Linked DNA regions of Homo sapiens: region 2 is linked to region 1. The links come from fine-mapping of genetic effects on gene expression. Tissue or cell type: esophagus muscle. Region 1 holds a variant in brackets; the other region holds the start of a gene. All regions are shown on one strand. Distances are between the middles of the regions.

Evidence for each region. PIP is the estimated chance that this variant, and not a neighbour inherited with it, causes the effect.
Region 2: it holds the start of NAGS, and the variant in region 1 is fine-mapped to the expression of NAGS in esophagus muscle (GTEx, PIP 0.99).

What each region holds. Positions count from the first base shown.
Region 1 is chr17:44,293,961-44,302,060 of GRCh38, reverse strand. RUNDC3A-AS1 (RUNDC3A antisense RNA 1) reads left to right here. Exons shown (of 4, transcript NR_110802.1): 4 at 1-2,487. Among named protein-coding and RNA genes, the nearest start is that of RUNDC3A-AS1, 10 kb to the left of the region's middle. The variant G/A (reference allele first, on the strand shown) is at 4,798.
Region 2 is chr17:44,000,757-44,008,856 of GRCh38, reverse strand. It overlaps NAGS (N-acetylglutamate synthase), which reads right to left and starts at 4,235. Exons shown (of 7, transcript NM_153006.3): 1 at 3,768-4,235; 2 at 2,946-3,220; 3 at 2,620-2,833; 4 at 2,148-2,328; 5 at 1,363-1,534; 6 at 1,084-1,266; 7 at 1-409. The coding sequence starts at 4,193. The coding sequence ends at 256. It also overlaps a transcript of PYY not described here. RefSeq lists an enhancer at 2,557-3,312.

The sequences.
Region 1 (8,100 bases):
AGACCCCGTCTCAAAAAAAAAAAGAAAAGAAATCACTTGCTCATGTGTGTAAGAGTTTACATGAGGGCCTCTGTTCTATTTCATTGGTCTATACGTCTGTCTCTATGCCAATACCACTCTATTTTGATGAATGTAGCTTTGCAGTGAGTTTTAAAATCAGGAAGTATAAGTCCTCCAGCTTTATTCCTTGTTCATATTTCAACTTTTGTGATAATCATTTCCTTGCTTTTCTTTATATTTTTATCACCCATGTGTGCACCGCCTACAAGCAGAACCTAACAGGACAGTAATGGAGGCTAGGGAACTGGTTTGCAGAGTCCCAGCCCCCTTCCAACATCAGAGAGCAGAGAAAATAAGAATGAATTTGAAGCTGAAAGTCAATAAGCAAATAACTGGCATTATCTACCCCTTTTTTCTATGCAGTAGTTACACATCTATCCATCATATTTGAATAATAACAGCTTCATCCCTTTGCCTAATAGATGCAACTGTCCTTTGCTCAAATGAAGATGCTCTGGGGCCCTCCCCCAAAAGCAGAGACGCAAAGTCTCTACAGCAATGGGATCCCTTTCCGTGTGATGTGAATTCTCCTAGTTCAGCCACATGTCCTCTAGAGTATTCTGCAACCTAAATTATGAAGGTCATCACCAACAACAATCCTCATAAAAAATAAGAGAAAAGAAGGAGAGGAAAGTTAACCAATATTTAAAGAGTGTATATAACAAAACAAGCAAGAGAAAACATGCCCATGGCTTCTACAATCCTTGCTTCTATATCTGGTCAGAAGCTGATATTATAACTTTCCTCTTCCATTACCCTTGAAGGGTTCAAGGGATTCTCGTGCCTCAGCCTCCAGAGTAGCTGGGAATACGGGTGCCCACCAACCACCACACCTGGCTAATTTTTGTATTTTTTTTAGTAGAGACAGGGTTTCACCATTTTGGCCAGACTGGTCTCGAACTCCTGACCTCAAGTGATCCCCACCCACCTTGCCTCCCAAAGTGCTGGGATTACAGGCGTGAGCCACCGTGCCTGGCCCCAAATCTGTATTCTTTATTTTTATTATTGTTATTATTATTATTGTTGTTTTTTTTTTTGAGACGGAGTCTCGCTCTGTCACCCAGGCTGGAGTGCAGTGGCGCGATCTCAGCTCAATGCAACCTCCGTCTCCCGGGTTCAAGCAATTCTCCTGCCTCAGCCTCCTGAGTAGCTGGATTTACAGGCGCCCACGACCATGCCCGGCTAATTTTTGTATTTTTAGTAGAGAGAAGGTTGCACCATATTGGCCAGGCTGGTCTCTTGGCCAGGCTGGTCTCAAACCCCTGACCTGGTGATCCGCCCATCTTGGCCTCCCAAAATGCTGGGATTACAGGCATGAGCCACCACGCCCGGCCCCCAAACCTTTATTCTTAAAATAAAGGTTTCAAGAATAAACCTTTATTCTTGAAATTAGCATTCTACAAATTGGAATCCTCAGAACTGTATTGCTCTTTTTTTTTTAACTTTTACTATTGGACACGGAAATAGGACATGGCACACCAGGGAGTCCCCTGGGTTCCAGACATAGTCCTCCCTGCCTTTCTTTTGGAGTTAGAACCCAGCTTACCCTTGGCATTTGGGATCAGTCATCCCAGAAGGTAACCCCTTTTTTGCCCTGAGCTCAGGTGAGAGCCTTATCTTCCAGGTAGTGGAACCATTGCAGTATCTCCTCGTGAAAGGATTCCTCCCTTAGTGTGGCAGATGCTGGCAGTGCCCTCCCATGTTCCTGAAGCTCTTGGGTTCACTGGATGAACTTCCAGCTGCCAGAACCTGCAGCTCTTTATCTAAGGACTCTCTCTGGCCACTGGAGCCTGCTGAGCAGGCTGAAAGTTCTGGGGAATTATACTCCCAGCCACAGCAACCTTCAGCCAATCACCGATGGGGATCGGTGCGTAAATAGCCAGCTTCCTCATCCCTCAGGTCCTGCAGCAAACATTATGACTGGCTCCCTGAGTTCCTTCTTAGGATTAAGCTCTGGTTGTCCACGTGTTTTGTTTGTTTGTTTGTTTGTTTTGTTGTTGTTGTTTTGTTTGTTTTTGAGACAGAGTCTCACTCTTGTTGCCCAGGCTGGAGTGCAATGGTGCAATCTTGGCTCACTGCAACCTCCGCCTCCTGGGTTCAAGCAATTCCCCTGCCTCAGCCTCCCAAGTAGCTGGGATTATAGCCATGTGCCACCACGCTCGGCTAATTTTGTATTTTTAGTAGAAACGGGGTTTCTCTATGTCGGTTAGGCTGGTCTCGAACTCCCGACCTCAGGTGATCCACCTGCCTTGGCCTCCCAAAGTGCTGGGATTACAGGTGTGAGCCACCGCACCCGGCCGGTTGTCCATGTTTTTAACTTGCTTGATAACACACCCTTTATGAGCCTCCTTTCTTTCCAATGTCAGTCTCCCACTGGCTTGCTTGGTATTCCTAGCATCGCTTTTCAAATAAACACTTGTGTTTCTCAAATAAATACTTTCCTTTGAATCCTTGACTCAGGTTCTACTTCTGGAGGGAACCCAAACCAACACATTTGATATCCAAAGTTGTCCTAGGAAGTAGACCCCCAGGATAAGATTCTGGTTTTGGATCACTCATCATCCAGATGGCCCAAAGATTCCATTGCTGAGGTAAGTGGGGTACTAATACCCACTGGAGAACTGGACTGATCGTCAGACTGTCACCCTGGTGAAATGGGATGCAGACAGGGATGCACTGCCTATGCAATAGCTCTAGTATTTGAGGTGTAAGAGGAAAATGGTAATTATAAGGACTGTGGAGACTGGGCTCAGTGGTTCATGCCTGTAATCCCAGCAGTTTGGGAGGCCAAGGCGGGTGAATGACTTGAGGTCAGGAGTTCGTGACCAGCCTGGCCAACATGGCAAACCCTGTCTCTACTAAAAATACAAAAATTAGCTGGGTGTGGTGGCAGGCACCTGTAATCTCAGCTACTAGGGAAGCTGAGGCACGAGAATCACTTGAAGCCACAAGGCAGAGGCTGCAGTGAGCTGAGATTGCGCCACTGCACTCCTGCCTGGATGACAGAGTCTCACTCTGTCATCAAAAAAAAAAAAAAAAGGAGTTGTTTGGTTGCTGTTAATGCCATCAAAGGGTTAAAAGAATAAAAGACAGACTCACATCAGCCAGCTATCAATTTATGATATAGTTAAAAGCTAGAAGAAGCCGGGCTCACACCTGTAATCCCAGCACTTTGGGAGGATCACTTGAGCCCAGGAGTTCGAGACAAGCCCCAGCAACATAGGAATACCCTGTCTCTACAAAAAATAAATTATCTGGGTATGGTGGTGAGCACCTGTGTTCCCAGCTATTCAGAAGGCTGAGGTGGGAGGATCACTTGAGCCCAGGAGGTTGAGGCTGCAGTGAGCCATGATTGTGCCATTGCATTCCAGCCTGGGCGACAGAGCAAGACCCTATCTTAAAACAAAACAAAAACCAGAAGACCTCTATGGCAGCATGTAAGGAAACCCTCACCTCCTGTGCAGGGCAGACTGTGATGAAAATCAGTCCTATAATCTGATTGCAAGAGTAGCAGGGTTTTATATTTAAAGCCCCAGCAGGTCAGGGCCCTGGGAGGGAAGGAGTGGGATCCTGAGGCCTGGTATGGGAACATCTGTTCTAAAACCCCCTTATTATGCTGAGTTATTTGGGCTGGCAGAATTGGCCTCTCCCCCTGGGTGGAAGAGAGCAGCCTCCCCTTGCCTAGATAACATGCAGATTCCTCACCTGAGGCAGACGCCTCACAAGATGATACTTGCCCTCTTCAAAGCCTGATGTTGACTCCCCTCCATGACTCTAGACCAATAACAATGGTCAAGTCTCATCAGGGACCAAGTGGGGAAGCACTGTCCCATCTATGGAAAGAAAAGGATGATTCACCAAAAGACCTGCAGGAGCTGGTGAACATTTACCAGAAGAATTTGGCAGAACATGTTTGGGAACATATCTTGAGGGTGTTAGACTGGGGTCAGGGGGTGGAATATAAGGCTGAGTAAGGCCGGGTCGGGTGGCTCATTCCTGTAATCCCAGCACTTTGGGAGACTGAGGCGGGAGGATCACCTGAGGTCAGGAATTCGAGAACAGCATGGCCAACATGGTGAAACCCCATCTCTACTAAAAATACAAAAAAATTAGCTGGGCCTGGTGGCGTGTGCCTGTACTCCCAGCTACTCAGGAGGCTGAGGCACAAAAGTCCCTTGAACCCGGGCAGTGGAGGTTGGCAGTGAGTCTAGATCGCACCACTGCACTCCAGCCTGGGTAACAGAGTAAGACTCCGTCTCAGAAAAAAAAAAAAAATGCTGAATAAGGGTACGTTTATTGATATGGAATGCCCTACCTGGTAAGGATTTAACATTTTATTTTATTTTATTTATTATTTATTTATTTATTTATTTATTTATTTATTTATTATTTATTTTGAGATGAGTCTTGCTCTGTAACCCAGGCTGGAGTGCAATGGTGCGATCTAGGCTCACTGCAACCTCCGCCTCCTGAGTTCAAGCAATTCTCCTGCCTCAGCCTCCCGAGTAGCTGGGATTACAGGTGCACACCACCATACCGGGCTAATTTTTGTATTTTTAGTAGAGACGGGTTTTCACCATGTTGACCAGTCTGGTCTCAAACTCATGACCTCAAGTGATCCATCTGCCTTGGCCTCCCAAAGTGCTGAGATTACAGGAGTGAGCCATCACGCCTGGCCTGGGATTTAACATTTTAAAGCTTGGCAAGGACACCAGAAGCCTGTTGCAATATGCCCCC[G/A]GGATAGATCTTCAAAGTGTGGAAAAACTATGAGTTCCAGCAAATGAGGTAGAGATGTTGGAACTTCCTTGACAGAATACTTGGAAGAATAAAGGCTCAGAAAAGTGGGCATGCCAGAATAAAATGACTATTATATAAGACTATAGAACCCTCCAGCCTACTGTGTTCTTCATGAGGGCCCAGAAATACTCAATAAATAAAGTGATACAAAAGGTGCTAGTTGGAACAGGGCCACTGGCATTTGCAGGTCAGTGGTAGCTGTCCTCAGCAGGCCAGAGCAATGGTAGCGGGAGCTGCTATGGGACTAGCCTTTCTAGAGTCAGTGGGTATAACAGGAGTCCAGAACGAGGTCAGGCGACAGCACGTGGTCATGAGAGGCTAAGTGGACATAATTACCGTAATAGGCAGAAAGACCAGAAATGTAAGCAGGGATCTATTGTGATGACCAAGAGACCATGGTGTTCCCAGATAGGAGGATGGTGAAGGAGGGTATCTCTTGCTTATAAAAACAAGCAAGAATGAGACAGCAGAAGGCTGAAGTTAGCCACTGCAAAGGAAAATCCCCATCCCATACCCAGTTTCCAGGCCCAAACCAGTTTTCAGATATAGAGCCCTTTGTCTTTTTTTTTTTTTTTTTTTTTTTTGAGATGGAGTCTTGCTCTGTCACCCAGGCTGGAGTGCAGTGGTGCAATCTTGGCTCACTGTAACCTCCACCTCCCAGGTTCAAGCGGTTCTCCTGCCTCAGCCTCCCAAGTAGCTGGGATTACAGGTGCTCGCCACCACACCTAGCTAATTTTTTGTATTTTTAGTAGAGACGGGGTTTCACCATGTTGGCCAGGCTGGTCTCGAACTCCTCACCTCAAGTGATGTGCCACCTCGGCCTCCCAAAGTGCTGGGATTACACATGTGAGCCACCAAACGTGGCCAAATATAGAGCCCTTTCATTGAAGTGGGGGCCAGTTCCCTTCAGGAAGAATCCTACAATGCCATGGCAAGTTTATATCATGGTAATTATCCTATTCTTCCCCCAAAGGTACTTACAGCTGCTTATCAGAGCAACTGCATCCTGGGGAAAGGGAAATACTCAGATCTTTCAAGGCTTTTGGATACAGAGTTGGAACTGACACTAATATTAAGGAACCAAAATGCCATCATGGGCATGTATTAGTGTGGGGCATATGGAGGCCAGGTGATGAAAGGAGATCTGGCCCATCAGTCTGCTTGATGGTTATTTCCCTGGCCCCTGAATACATAGTGGAATAGAGGTACTTAGTAGATAGCAGATCTCTCGCGTTGGTTTCCTGAAATAAGAGCCATTACCACACCTGTAATCCCAAGTGTGGAGGCCAAGGTGGGAGGATCACTTGAGCCCAGGAGTTTGAGAGCAGCCTGGGCAAAATAGTGAAACCTCATCTCTACAAAAAAATTTTTTTAAATTAGCTGGGTATCGTGGCACACTCCTGTAGTCCCAGCTACTCAGGACACTGAGGTGGGAGGATTGGTTAAGCCAGGGAGGTCAAGATTGCAGTGAGCTGAGATTGTACCACTGCACTCCACCCTGTGTGACATAATGAAACCATCTCCAAAAAAAAAAAGAATGAAATAAGAGTCATTAGGGTAGGAAAGGCCAATTAGAAATTGCTTCCTCATCTCCCTCCCAAGAGAGTTAATCAGAAGCAATGCCCCAGCCCAGGTGGAATGGCAGTGGTTGGAGTCACTCACAAAGGATATAAAAGTGGTGGTTCCCAGGATATCCCCATTTAATTCATCAATCTGGCTCTTGCAAAAACCAGATGGATCATTGTAGATGAGGGTGCACATAACCAAGTGGCGCCCTGATTGAGTGCTGTGCCAGATGTGTTAGCTTTCTTAGAACAGATCAACAGAGTCCCTGCCATTTAGTCCATGACTGTTAATTTGTTGAAGGAAGTAAGATTAGAAGCAGATTCCTGCCAGGCTCGGTGGCTCACGCCTGTAATACCAGCACTTTGGGAGGCCAAGGCAGGCAGATCACTTGAAGTCAGGAGTTTGAGACCAGCCTGACCAAGATGGTGAAACCCTGTCTCTACTAAAAATACAGGAATTAGCCAGACGTGGTGGTGGGTACCTGTAATCCCAGCTACTCAGGAGACTGAGGCACGAGAATCACTTGAACCCGGGAGAGGGAGGTTGCAGTGAGCCGAGATCGAGCCACTGTACTCTAGCGGGGGCAACATAGCGAGACTCAGTCTCAAAAAAAAAAGCCGATTCCTTTCCCTGAGGACAGACAAAAGTCCACATCCACAGTCTTACCCCAGGGCTATGTTAACTGTCCTGCTTTCTGTCATAATAGAGCAGAAACCTTGATCATCTTGGCATTCCACACAACATCACACAATCCATTGTACCGACGACATTGAGCTAATGGAACCTGGTGAACAGAAAGTGGCAAGGCACGTGCTTGCCAGAGGTTGGAGGATAAATCCTACAAAGACTCAAGGATCTTTGCAAAATTTGTCAGAGTCCAGTGAACTGGCACCACCATGTGTCTCCTATCCCTAGGAAAGATGCACAAAGCCTGGCAAGCCCCTTCAGATATGGGAGATGGCACATGCCACACTTGGAAATACTGCTCCAACTAATTTTCAGGGAACTCCGAAGGCTGCTGGTTTTGAGTGGGGCCCACAACAAGAGAGGTTTTTTTCAGTCCAGGCCAAAATGCAAAGTTCCCTGCCACTTGGGCTCATATAGCCTAGCAGATGCCATCTATCTATGATTCATAGGATGCTTTGGGGAGTCTCTGGCAAGCCCAGAAGGTTCTGGAGCAAGGCCATGCCATCTACAGCAGAGGACTGTTCCGGTTTTAAAAAATAATCTTCTGGCCGGGTGCATCGGCTCACACCTGTAATGCCAGCACTTTGGGAGGTCAAGGGATCACCTGAGGTCAGGAGTTCGAGACCAGCCTGGCCAACATGGTGAAACCCTGTCTACTAAAAATACAAAAATTAGTCAGGTGTGGTGGTGCACGCTTGTAGTCCCAGCTACTCGGGAGGCTGAGGCACGAGAATGGCGTGAACCCAGGAAGTGGAGGTTGCAGTGAGCCGAGATTGTGCCACTGCACTCCAGCCTGGGTAAGAGAACAAGTCTCTGTCTCAAAAAAAGAAGTCTTCGGTTGTGCTGCAGAGACCTGACCATTGGACAGGTATGGTGATGTGATCAGAGCTGCCCATTGCGAAGCGGGAACTGTCAGATACACCAAGTGACACAGTTGAGCAGGTGCAGCAATAATCCATCCTACCATGGAAATGGTGCATTCCAGATGAG
Region 2 (8,100 bases), 290 kb after region 1:
GGTTGAAAATCGAAGGCCATTTGGTTGTAGCTTTAGAGTGAGTCGAGTTGGGGTCCTAGACTGGTCCCCTTCTTTCCTGTGCTTGTCCCACTTCAGCGCCTCCTCTGGGCAGAGCTGGGGCTGCTTTCTCCTCTGCAGATCACTCAGCCAACAAGCCCCCTTCAGCCTGTGGCTGGCTGCCTGGGGTCATGCCCAGCTGGCATGGCTTTTGGTCCACCCTGGCCATTCCAGGGCCTGTAGTGTCCATGGTGAGGGTCAGCTGCCTGGGTCAGAAGCTGGCTTGTGAAAGGAGTCTGGCAGTCCCTTGGCGTGGTTGACCAACTCATAGGAGTCCCGGATATCAGCCAGGCCAAACCAGAAGAAGATCCACTGCTTGTTGGAGAAGCTGCCATCACTGTGTTTGAAGTACCTGGGTGTGGGGAGGTGATGTAGGAAACAGTTTTTAGGGCAAGGCCAGTGTTCATTACTCACTGGTTCTGTCTTTAAAAAACATTGATTGAGGACCTACTGCATGCTGGGCACCCAGCTTGGTCCTGCTGTGTGTTATCTCATTTTATCCTCACAGCAGAGGCCTGAGCCTGGCATTGTGATGCTCAGCTCACAGAGAAGCAGCTAAGGCTCAGAGAAGTTAGGTACCTTGCCAGGCGCACACAGGAAGGGAGCGGGTGCTTTGCTCTCCACACTGCCTTGGCTGTGCAGCAAAGAGGAGGGTTCTTGCTCACTTCCTAGTGCTCACAGAGCAGGGTGTAGGGGTGAGGGGGTAGTTACTGAAGGAGAGAGGAGGGATGTTCCACTGGAGGCGCCGCAGGCCTCCAATAGACCCTGAAGGGTTAGGATTCCTCAGGCCCCTGTGAGAGGTGGGCTGCGTGGGGCTTAGGAGGTGTCACTTGCTGCCAGAAAAGGAGTGTTAAGCATGCTTTAACTCGGGAAATCTCAGGCTTTCTGTGTGTTCTGCCCCTGGGAGGTAGTGAAAGGGAGACCAGTGGAAGAAGAGGAAGCCCAGCCTTCTTGGCATGGTTGGCAAGGGTGGGAGAGGGGAGGGAAGTCAGGGCCCAGCCCAGAGCTGGGAGTGGCAGGACCTACCAGGGATTGATGGGGTTGGTGACCCGGGAGCGCCAGAAAAGTGTCTGAAGGTCCCGCCGCAGGCACTCCCACAGCATCTGGCCGGAGCCTTGGCCCTGGCGGCTGGAGCTCACCACAAATTTGTCCAGGTACGGGGTGCCCCCCAGGACGGGCTCCATGGTCAGAATGGCGGCGGCGTTGTACCTGGCGCAGCGGGAGAGCGGCAGGCTGGGACCTCTCCTTGGTCCGAAGCTGCCCGACTGCCCCCCAGACCCCGCCCTCTGGGGTCCGCAGGCTTACCCCTCGGAGACGTAGATGGAGTGCAGCCGCGGGCGCAGCGAGGCCAGGTAGTCGTCCCTGAGCTTCTTGCCGAAGCTGGCGTTGACCAGGTCCACTAGACGGCCCTGGTCCAGCTTGTCCAGGCTGCGCACCCGTAGCATTCGCTCGGCGTTCTTGAACAGGGTCCCGGACCCTGGAGGAGGATGGGGAGGGGCTAGTCTGGCTGGAGGGCCGTTTGCGCAGCCTGGTGGGGACTGCAGGTAGGACAGGCGCTGGTGGGACAATTTCCGTCTTTGGGAGACCTCCACAGTGAAATGATTTCAGTGGTCTGCATAGATTTGTCTGTGATTTTCATTCAAGGAGATGCTTTCCCCAGGCAGAGATTGTGCCCCAAGTTCCTCCTGTCGCCTGGAGCCCCACCCACTTCCGTTAGTCTTGCCTCGCTCCTTGAAGTCTGTCTCCCGCCGCTGACCCGGCCCACCCACCTAAGCCCCGCCCATCTCTCCCGGTCGAACACCTCCCTTATGGTCCCGCCCCTGGCCCCGCCCACCGGGGGGCCCCTCCTTCTCCCCCCTAGTCCCGCCCATTCCTTTAATTCCTTCGGAGTTCCCTTCCAGTACACTGGGTCTCCTCCTCTCTCACCTCCCCCGGGTTTCGGCAGCAGCAGGAGCCATTGCTGTGACACCCCCCGCCTCCCCCTACGGCTCCTGGACAGGAGGAGAAGCCGCTCCTCCTGACCGCAGACACCCAGCCCCGGCCAGTACTCACTCCCGGGACCCAGTCCCCGGCCCGCCCACCGCCCTCACCCTTGTTGCTAAAGAGCTCAGTGAGCAGCGTGCTAGCGGCGGTGATGACGGCCGAGGAGTGGTGGGGCAGGCGGCTGAGCACGTCCACGATGAGCCGCATCTGCTGCCGTTCTTTTGTGCTCACCCACTCGGCGTTGCACACCAGGTCCAGGTCGGCGGGCAGGTTCACGTTACTCAGGACCTGTGTCCGGAGTCAGCGGGTGAGCCTGGCCCACAGCCGGCACGGACTGCCCCCCTACCCCCACGGACCTCTCTTTTCTCTGACCCCTTTATCCTTACTTCCGCCCGGAGTCCTTAGCCAGGGAGGGCGCAGATCTGGGCACCCAGGGCTGAACTCCTCCCCTATACTCCCTTAGGCTTTTCTACCCACCCGGCTTGCTAGTGAGTCTGCGGCCCGTCGGGGAGAAGTGCGAGGGGCGCAAGAGAAGGCCCGGATCGCCGGCGTGGGGGAAGGTGAAAGAAAGGGCCGCACCTTATGACTGCTGTCGCGCAGGCCGCCTGTGTTATTGAGGAAGATGATTTTGGTGGGCCGCAGCGCCTTGGCCAGCGACGCGGTCACCTCCAGGGAGTCGAGAAGCACGGAGCGGCGCGCGGCCGTCTCCCCGATGGGGCACAGGATGGGGATGCTGCCCGACTCCAGGCACCACTGCAGCAGGTCTGTCTCCACCGAGACGATGCCGCCGTAGCTGTGGGCCAGACGTGGTGCTCGAGAGGGCCCCCTCCAGGCCTGCCGGACGGGGCAGGGCGGGCAGAGTAGCACGCTCTGAGGACGCCTGGGCGGGCAGGGCGGGCACTCACCTGGCATGGGGAGCCGGCTCGGCAGCGCGTAGCACAGACCCGCCGCCAAAAAATGGCACAGCAGCGGCGGCGTTGTGTCGAAGCGCGTCTACCAGCACCTTGCAGCTCTTGGCCAGCTGCGCCTTGGCCTCCCAGAAGGAAAGACAGCCCGAGGGAGCCGTAGGGGCCGGCAGCCCCAGGACCACCAGCGGCTTCATGTCCATGCGCTGCAAGAAGGCCAGGGCAAAGGCCAGACTGGATACGCCCTGCTGGCACTTGAGCACCTCCTCGTCCACCTGCGGAGGAGTGGGCTTTCAAGGAGCGTGACACGGACCTGAGCCGCTGGCTCCCACAGCCTGGCCTGCAGGGCCGTCTCGGTGACCCTACCCTTCCAGAAGCTGTCAGGACCCAGTTCTGGCCACCAGTGCCCACCTGCTCCGCCCTTTGCCCCGTTGGGTCTTGCCACTCCCTTGTCTCACGCTGGGGTACCTCCCGCCCTCCTCCCTCCGACCTTGGACTCCGGGACATCTTTGGGGGAGGGGCAGTGCAAGCGGCTCCTGTCCAGGTCCTTCTGAACCCCTAACTGCGCCCATGTTGGGGGCCTTCTTCAGAGCATCACACCTGGCGGGTGGGGTCCCCCAGGATCCTCACTCGGGCTGGGCGGGAGGCTTCCGGAGGAGCTTACGGCCTCTCCCATTCCCGGCGGCGCTGGTCTGGGCCCTGCCGGGCTCCTTCCCGCTTCCGCTGCGCAGAGCCCGCAGCGTATCCTGCCATGCCTGAGGACAGGTGGCCGCACAACCCCATCCCCTCGCTGCGTCACGGCCCACGCCGGGCTCCGCTCACCTCGATGACGGCGAAGGGCTTGTCCGCGGAGTGATGGCAGGTCTGGAACTGCGTGAGCCAGTGGCGCGCCTCCCCAGGGCTGGCCCCGCACTGGTTCAGGAAGGCCTGGATGTCCCGCTGCACCAGCGAGCGGCCCGAAGGAGGCTCTGGGGACTCGTGGGGCACCGGGGGCCTGGGACTCGGCACCCACGACGGCTCCTCGGCGACGGGCGACTGGGAGACGTCGTCCGCGCCCGCGTACTCCTCGGGCGGGGGCTGGGGCTGCGACCAGGCGGTGCTGAGCCGGCGCCCCGGGCTGGTGCCCCTCGCCGCCCGCCGCCGCGCGCCACAGCTCAGCCTTCGGGCGCCCCCAGTGCCTCCCCGGCCTCTCAGCCTCGGGGCTACAGCAGCTGCCCGCAGAACCACAGCCATCAGCGCCGTCGCCATGACGACAACCAACTCTTGCCCCCCAAGAGTGGCAGTCTGTCTGGAGCGTCTGGCACTGGGGGGCTCTTAACTTGCCGTTGGGCGGGGCTGGACCTGGTCGGGGCGGGGTCCGGACAGGGGACCAGGAGTCTCCTCTGGGTGCGTTTGAGGAGGGTCAGGCCATGAGTCAGGGGGCGGGGCCACTAGGCTCCCCCGCCCCTGGAGGAACTGAACCCACTATCGGTCATGGGGCCGAGACTAAATGTGGCGGGTTGTCTTTAATCTGCTGCCAAGGTAGGTTCCAGGGGCGGCTTTGGGAGTCTGCAGGGCCTTGGATGATTGGCATTCTGACCAGAGAAGAAGGGACTGTAGGTGGCTTTGAGCACAGGGCTGGGCAGGGGGCTGGAAGGAGGGCGCTGGAAAGAGTAGAAGAAGGGGGGCAGTGGGAGGGCGGGGGCGGGTGGTGCTGGCCTTGTCTGTCCTGTTGCCTGAGCTCAAAAAAGATCCTAATGAATGACCATGAGGTTACCAGGGTTTGCCAAACTCCAGTCACTGGGTACCAGCTTGAGGAATTCTGTGATATCCTCAAAACACCCCTCAAAACTTATAATACTTTAGTGTTAATGCTTTTCTTTATCGAATATCACATCTGGTAAAAATAAAATAAAATAGAGTTTTTTATTTTGGTTTTTGAGATAGGGTCTCACTCTGTTGTTGCCCAGGCTGCAGTACAGTGGTGCAATCATAGCTCACTGCAGCCTCCACCTCCCAGGTTCAAATGATCCTCCTGCCTCAGTCTCCCTAGTAGCTGGGACCACAAATGCACACCACCATGCCCAGCTGATTTAAAAAAAAATTATTTTTTTTGAAGACGGGTGTTCACCATGTTGCCCAGACTGTTCGTGAACTCCTGAGCTCAAGCAGTCCTCCCACTTCTGCCTCCCAAGGTGCTGGGATTACAGGTGTGAGCTACTTCACTCGACCTCTGTAACCCTTTTTTTTTTTTTTTTTTTTGTTTGTTTGTTTGTTTGAGATGGAGTCCCACCCTATTGCCCAGGCTGGAGTGCAGTGTTGCGATCTCGGCTCACTGTAATCCCCGCCTTCTGGGTTCAAGCGATTCTCCTGCCTCAGCCTCCTGAGTAGCAGGGATTACAGGCAGACACCATCACACCCGGCTAATCTTTGTATTTTTAGTAGAGACAGGGTTTCACCATGTTGGCCAGGATTGTCTCAAACTCCTGACCTCGTGATCCACCTGCCTCAGCCTCCCAAAGTGCTGGGATTACAGGCGTGAGCCACCACGCCCGGCCCTCTTTAACCTTTTTAAACTTAAAGTTTATCCATGTTAGGTCTGTAACTAGGCCAGTATCACTTGCCATAAGCCTTAAGAATCAAGTGAGGAGGCGGGTGGGTCATTTGAGGTCAGAAGTTCAAGACCAGCCTGGCCAACATGGTGAAACCCCATCTCTACTAAAAATACAAAAATTAGCCAGGCAGTAGTGGCATGTTTCTGTAATCCCAGCTACTCAGGAGGCCAGAGAATCACTTGAGCCTGGGAGGAGGAGATTGCGGTGAACTGAGACTGTGCCACTGCACTCCCGTCTGGGCGACAGAATGAGACCCTGTCTCAAAAAAATTAAAATTAAAATTAAAATCAAAATTAAAAAAGAATCAAGTGAGAGGAAAACAATGTTATTACATTCCATTATATTCCATCTGCATAGCTTGCCTGCTTTCTTGGTAACATGGAAGGTTAGCAGGTGCCATGTGTTAAAGATACCCTAGCACCAAGCAAAGCCTTCTGTGTGGTAGAGGAATAGCTAACACATGTCGAATGCTAGGCACTATGCAAAGGACTTCACAAATAGTCATTCATTTAATCCTCTCAGTGACTCCAGGATAGCTATTATCATTATTCCCATTTTACAGATGAGAAAATGGAGGTACAGAAATATGTGAGGATCAGGGTCACTCAGCTCACAAGCCGTGGAGCTGGTCTAGGAAGCAGTTCTGCTCCAGATCCATGCTGTTAAGCAAGTTTTGGAAAGGAGTTGAAAGGCTTGAAAACATTCACAGGATATGATTCAATGTTACTTCATACTGTGTCCATGTGCTGGGCACTGTCAGCTGCACACATCCTGCCCTTGGGTACACTCTGATCCAGTCAGACCCTCTGTTGTTGTAGAGGGGGAAAGAGGACCCTCTGTTGTTGTAGAGGGGAGGTGACCTGGCCAAGGTCACACAGCTCGTCAGTGGCATGGCCAGACCCTAAGCACCCTCAGTTCCTACCCCTGCTCCTCCCTGCTTTCTTGCACGTGGTTTTGTCTCCCCATGCTGGAGTCCTGACACCTGGGGCTCTGCCTTTTTGGGGAGCAGGGCTTGGGCTACTTCCCTCCTGAGGAGTCTCCAGGGGAGGCCGAGTGAGTGCGCTTACCCGTTTCTGGGATCTTCCCCGCAGTCCCCCACCCCTCGGACACACTGTCCCGGGGGGGAGACTCTGTAGTGGAAGGAGGGGCTGACATAGGACCTCCTCATTGAGTTTTTTTGTTTTCCCACTTAGAAATCTTGGGTTCCAAGGCAAAGCATGAAGCAATGGCGTGGAGGGGCTGCACCCCCTACCTGGTGGGGCCACCTCCAGGGCCTTCTTTCTCTTCCCTCTTTACTCTCAGGCCCGGCCACACACACACTTCTCAGAATCCACTGGAGGAGGAGGTCTTAGCCTCCAGGGGCATAATAGTTTTCCTCTCCAAACTCCTTCAACCCAAATGTGCTTCTCTTTCCCTAGGCTGCAAGGCCAGCTCTTCATCACAGCAGGCCACCCCTGCTGACCCCTCTCCACTCAGAATTCCTTCTTGTCTCTGTCCTCTTTGACTCAGACTGGGGCTCCCTGAGGGCAGGACTGGTATCTCCCTCAGATGGGGGCTTCCTAGGGATCCACCCAATTCAGTCCCTGCTGACTGAATCAGCTCCATTGCCCCTGAGCCTATGAGGTGGAAATGGGCTGGGAAGCGGCTTCTGACTCCTTTGGGCTTCATCCCAGAGGGCCGTGTCCCCAGGCAGCCAATGGGGCCCAGAGATACCAGAGTAGATGATTAACTCCAGGCCCATTGACCCTGGGGCCACTGTGTCCCCTCCACCTCTCCTCTGGTTGGGGACTGGCCCTGCTTTCTGGAGGAGAAGAGTGTGAGTGTCTGGGGTCAGCACTCCTACCCAGCCCCACCCCTCTGAGTTGAAGGCCTACAGGATCATTGTTGATGTATGGGTCCAGCTCACATTTTTCTTCCTTTAAAGGTGGGTGTTATTTTGTTAGAGCAGAGCCTGTTGTCATTGTGCCCAGGTTCAGGGGCCCAGCTTCTCACCAGGCTTGGGTCTTGGAGATCCTGGGAGCAGAGACATAACTTCCACCCAGAAGGGTCCTGGGCCCCGAGCACAGTAGCCAGGTTTAAGCCCAAGGCTTTCCCTCCCAATACAGCCCTTCTTGGCCGCATCTCAGCCCAGCAGGGCATGAATGTGACAGGAATTGGCCAGGGTGAGGGGCTGGGGTTGACATTTGACAGTACCACATCACAGCTCCTGAGGGGAGACACACACACAAACATGCACAGTACACAAATACAGAGCCCCATAGCATTGAGATGCAAACAGATAAACGATGTGTAGACACACGGGTGTACAAAGAGACACAGTAGACAAACTTGGAGACCCACACCAGCCACAGTCACACAGACACTCATCTGTACGTAGAGGAATGCCCCTGTACACCATACAGGTGTACAGAGGTACACAGATCCACTCATACACGTTTGGATACAGAATTGTGCACTCACATAGGCCAGGTGTGGTGGCTCATGCCTATAATCCCAGCACTTTGGGAGGCTGAGGCGGGCGGATCACTTGAGGTCAGGAGTTTGAGACCAGCCTGGCCAAC